Regions from separate parts of the Homo sapiens genome. Here region 2 is linked to region 1. The links come from fine-mapping of genetic effects on gene expression. Tissue or cell type: tibial nerve. Region 1 holds a variant in brackets; the other region holds the start of a gene. All regions are shown on one strand. Distances are between the middles of the regions. Region 1 overlaps IL2RA (interleukin 2 receptor subunit alpha). Region 2 holds the start of IL2RA (interleukin 2 receptor subunit alpha).

Region 1 (2,500 bases):
TGTCTTCCTTTATGATGGATAGGACAGACAGAAAATCAGTAAGAACAATCAAATGTGATAACCACAATTAACAAATTTGATTCCAACAATAGCAGAGCCCACTCTTTTTTCAAGCACACATGGGACATTTACAAGGCAGTAGAGGAGTTGAAGGCAAGTTAGGGGCAAAGAGTGGGTATCTATGGGGTAGGAAAATGGAAGTCTAGATAAGGAATAAACAGAAGGAAATGTTGAAGGTAAAGCTCTGGGTGTCAGAATCTTCCTCCTCTTTCACTCACTGGCTCACTGTGGTCCCTTCTCATTTCAGATGCTCCGTCTGTAACACGAAATGAAAAGAATTCCTCCCAATCATGTAACCATAGGAGCTTCTCATACACCCCAAGCCATTTCCTTTTACCATGCTGATATGTCCTTTTAGGCCTCTTGACATAGTACCCCTTGCTGGGAATCCTGCCCCTGCCCATGAGCCAGGCAACAGAATGAAGGCTGCTCTTAACTATAAGGTGCCTGAAAGGTGGGTGGGAGTTCAACTGGAAGGTTAGGCACGTCAGGCCATTCTGGCAGAGAATGTGTAAAAGTGTAAAACAGCATCATCATATGGAAGATACAAGAGACTACAGGTAGAATGTTTTGCTGAAGCATGAATCGTGAGGGTATGAAGGATGGAAATATGAGGATCAGTTGAAATAACATAAGTGACATTGAAATCTGTAAAATGCTCCACAAATTTTGATTGTTGCTACAATGACCTCTTGAGCGGTGTTGTTTTTAGAACCCAATGATAAAATATATAGTTACTTTCTAAGCTGAAAAACAATAATTAAAGCGTTCATTGCTTAAAGCTTGATTGTGTCACAACGAGGAAATAGAGTTTCTTTTGAATTCATATTCTAAGAACTATTTATGAGAATGCTGTATTCGGTTGTTTCCTGTCACCTGTATTCACATTAATAGATTATAACGGATTTCAATCTACTGAAGCATAGTCAATTCTCTGATTGCTGCCAACCAAATCACCATGGTTGAATTTGAATATTTCCAGTCATTTTTGATGGTTGTTGCCTGCCCACATTACCTGTTATTTATTTAAACTACCTTATATACGAATACACTTTTATATATAATTTAGAATTTTTTCTTAGCCATCATTAAATCACACCTAAATTTG[C/T]AATACATGGTATTGTCTTAGTTGTTCACTTTGCCTTTTGTCTCTCTTTTCCTAAACCTACCTTTTCTTCCCCAAAGACACTCAAGGACTTAATGGCATCTTTGGGTTTTTCTCACTCCAATTGACTTTAAAAGAACCCTCGTTATTAGTGATCTGATAAAACTGGTAACATAGATAAGGCATACAATTGTTGGAAAAAGAGAAGATAAAAATAATCATTCTATGTGAGGAATTTAATTAAGTACTTAGAAAACCCAAGACGGTTAAAGTATTAGAACTATTAAGAGTTTCATAAGGTGGCCAGATAGAAAATTCATTTATAAAATTCAACATTTTTTATATATCAGCAACAACCAATCCAAAAATATAATGGGAAATGATATTTTTTAACAGTTGTCAATCCTTAGTTGCCAGAAATGTGCTAAGTTCTGAACAGAAGATCCTGGAACTGGGAGAGATGTTAATTAACTGTGGACTTTTAACATCACGAGTACTTTGAGAACTTAAAGGGTGAGTTAATTCTTTTTTTTTTTTTTTTTTTGAGACGGAGTCTCGCTTTGTCTCCCAGGCTGGAGTGCAGTGGTGCAATCTTGGCTCACTGCAAGCTCCGCCTCTCGGGTTCAGGCCATTCTGCCTCAGTCTCCCGAGTAGCTGGGACTGCAGGCGCCCACGATCACGCCCAGCTAATTTTTTTGTATTTTTAGTAGAGACGGGGTTTCACTGTGTTAGCCAGGATGGTCTCAATCTCCTGACCTCGTGATCCACCCGCCTCGGCCTCCCAAAATGCTGGGATTACAGGGGGGAGCCACTGCGCCCGGCCAATGGTGACTTAATTCTAAAAGTAGAATTAAAACATATAATACACAAACCAGTAGAAGGAAAAGAGAAAATAAAGGAAACTCAATCAATTTAACAGAAGACAAGAAAAGATAAATACAACAGTAAAAGAAAAATAATGGTTAATAAAAGTTCAAAGTAAAATAGCATAAATAAGTCCAAATGTAGTACAATAAATATAAATCAATTAAGCTTGCTTGTAAAAGACAGAGGTATTCTGATTGAGGGGGAAAAATTTCCCCCAAAGTCCTGCACAAGGTCTATTTTTGTTATGTCAAGAGACGTCTTTAAAATACAGTGACATGTGAAGGTTGAACTAAAGGGCTGGAAAACACATTATATGCAGATATTTAGCAACCAAAAGAAAGCTCGATAGCTTTAGTAACAGGAGAAACTAGACCAAAAAAGTATTTTCACAGATAAATATCACTGTGGAAGTTATAATAATCTTGACCCTGTAAACACTCAACAATACATATTGTTGATAAGGTAGCC
Region 2 (2,997 bases), 22 kb after region 1:
CTACTTGTTGCCATTATAGACTTTCAAAAAACACTATAAACTTTCTTATCTGTCTTCCTGAGTAAGCAAAGGGAAGACATTATTAGAAAATTCACACTCAATTAGGAAGAGTGGTTTGAGGTAGAAGTTGGTGGTTTTTTATTTCTTTAAAAAAAAATATTGGCCAGGCACGGTGGTTCATGCCTGTAGTACCAGCAGTATGGGAGGCCAGGGTGAGTGGATCACTTGAGCCCAGGAGTTCAAGACCAGCTTGGGCAACATGGCAAAAACCCCATCTCTACAAAAAAATAAATTAACCAGGTGTGGTGGCGTATGCCTGTAGTCCCAGCTACTCAGGAGGCTGAGGTGGGAGGATCGCTAAGCCTGGGAGGCGAAGGTTGCAGTAAGCCAATATCGCGCCACTGCACTCCAGTCTGGCTGACAGAGACAGTGTCAAAAAAAAAAAATCTTCGAGAAAATCCATTTGAAACAAGGAATGAAATTTAAAATTTGCATATATAAACACGTATACATATACATATCATGTATATACATAGGATTATGAGAAGTAGTAATGTTCTAAAAGTGAGTATGCATATTTTTAAAAATTTCTGTAAAGTTGCACTTGTAAGGAAATTCCTAGGTGTTATTTCCTAAGACGTAAAAGCAGTGTATACATCCTTGAAGCTAAACTTTTCTGAGATCTTAAATTCTCCCAGTGTTTGATATATGAGTACTCATGTCTCCAGCAAATTAACCTGAACTTAAAGAGCTTCCTGATAGCTTCTTAGTTGGGGGGTGGGAGTGCAGAGAATAAAAGGAAATTCATTGAAGAATAAAAGATAATTTCTTGAGAAACCTGCTCATCGGGACCCTGTTAACATCCAAATATCCCAAATATCATGCCACACTATTCTTCCCAGAATTAATTGTCAAGGACTGAGAAGGACAGGAGAACCTAATGCTATTTCAGGCTCTCTTGACAGACCAAGGAACAGTGAGGCATAAACTGGGGTCCCCGTGGGTCACAGGCAAGAGGTGGAACCCAAGATTCAACTCCCTTCTTGGAACCATCTACCTGGGGACTCCCTCTGGTTCTGTGGCTGGGAAGAGGGATGCCCATCAGCCTTCCCGGAATTCCGGGGGCACCCACAGGCCCTTACCTGCCTGGCAGCCAGGCACCATGATGAACGTGAGCAGTCCCCACATCAGCAGGTATGAATCCATCTTCCTGACCCTTGGGACCAGCCGGGGCAGTGAAGCGGAGGTCTTTCTCTGCAGAAGGCCCAGTTGCCGTCAGCCTCTTTTTGGCATCGCGCCGGAGGATGTGGGATGGGAAGATCGGTCCGCCTGGGCTGTCACCCTTGTGGGTCCATCCAGTCTCTATCGGAGTCAGGAGTTGCTCTCTTTAAGTATTGGGCTGGCGTGTTCAGCCAGGAAACTGCCTAGCACTCTCTTCTCTCATCTCAAATATAGGAAGTGTTTTTTTTTTTTTTTTTTTTTGATGACAATATAGTTTGCGGTAATTTTTCAAACCAGGTTTTTTTTTTCAAGTTCAATTGCTGGAGGTGTGGGCTGGGGTTGATGAGAAGGATTGAACTTCATTTATGAATCCTTTCTTCAGCTACGCCCATAAAAGGAGAGGGAGATTCCCCTGCCGTTGAAGGTAGGGTGAGCAAGCACTTCTTGGCAGTGGTCTCACCCAGCACTTCATAAGCTGAGTCCTCCCCTCAGGGCTGTAACGTCCTCAGGAGTCAGCCGGGACCACCTGGGATGAAGGAGCAAAGTCCTGACAAGATTCTGGTCAGGCAGCCTCCAATATTCAAATAATGGAGAAGGATGCGGCGAACTGAAGGATCCTGAGAATTCATAAATAATTCCCCAAGGCTTATAACCTGTACTAGCCATCATCATTTCACCACAGTGCCCTGGGCTCCTGAAAGTGCATTGTCATTTTATAAGGTGTTTTGCTTCCAGATTTCTTTCTCTTAAAGGATCATGCAAAAAGTGGGCTTTGGTTTTAAACTTTGGATTATTTTGTAAAATTCAGTCTTGCTTATTTATTGATCAGAGCTCTCTTCTGATTATTATGAAATGGTTGAGTGTGTTTTGCTCCCTGGAAATTTGTCTAAGACTTAAAGCCATTGCATAGTTAGAGCAAAACACAATTTTTTAAATACTAGAAAGCAAGCAAAGATATTAACAAAAAGAAAACCCTCCGGGCAAGCCAAGGAATTCAGGGTTCCAAAACACATCACGTTGACTGGGCCTGGTGGCTCATGCCTGTAATCCGAGCACTTTGGTAGACCAAGGTGGGTGGATCACCTGAGGTCAGGAGTTTGAGACCAGCCTGGATGACATGGTGAAACCACCGTCTCTACTAAAAAAAAAAAAAAAAAAAAAAAAAAAAAAAAATTAGCCAGGCGCAGTGGCACACGCCTGTAATTCCAGCACTTTGGGAGGCTGAGGCAGGCAGATCACCTGAGGTCGGGAGTTTGAGACCAGTCTGGCCAACATGGTAAAACCCCATTTCTACTAAAAATACAAAAATTAGCCAGGCGTAGTGGCGGGCGCCTGTAATCCCAGTTACTCAGGAGGCTGAGACAAGAGAATAGCTGGAACCGAGGAGGTGCAGGCTGCAGTGAGCTGAGATTGCGCCACTGCACTCCAGCCTGGGCGACAGAGTGAGACTTCCATCTCAAAAAACTTGTCAAAATATGACAAGATTCTCTTAAATTCCACAGCAGGTATAACTTCCTCTCTAGGAACGTTTCTCACTCTGCGGGCAAGTGCTCCAGTAGAAACTCCTAGTACTCCCACCAAAGTCACGCTCCTTTCTTCTTGGGCATGGGAGTAGAATGCACTTGCTGCCTCTCCTGGAAAATAGCTTATGCTTTAAGTAGTTAATGTGGATTGTCATTATAAAATATTTAAATTTATGTTAATGTCTTTTTTTTTTTTTTTTTGGAGCGCAATGGCACAATCTTGGCTCACTGCAACCTCTGCCTCCCAGGTTCA

Evidence for each region. PIP is the estimated chance that this variant, and not a neighbour inherited with it, causes the effect.
Region 2: IL2RA starts here. The variant in region 1 is the best candidate, but not a certain one, in a credible set for the expression of IL2RA in tibial nerve (GTEx, PIP 0.63).

What each region holds. Positions count from the first base shown.
Region 1 is chr10:6,039,427-6,041,926 of GRCh38, forward strand. All of the region lies in intron 1 of IL2RA (interleukin 2 receptor subunit alpha), which reads right to left. Among named protein-coding and RNA genes, the nearest start is that of IL2RA-AS1, 5.3 kb to the left of the region's middle. The variant C/T (reference allele first, on the strand shown) is at 1,169.
Region 2 is chr10:6,060,946-6,063,942 of GRCh38, forward strand. It overlaps IL2RA (interleukin 2 receptor subunit alpha), which reads right to left and starts at 1,422. Exons shown (of 8, transcript NM_000417.3): 1 at 1,143-1,422. The coding sequence starts at 1,206. RefSeq lists an enhancer at 1,133-1,182 and a cis regulatory region at 1,175-1,805.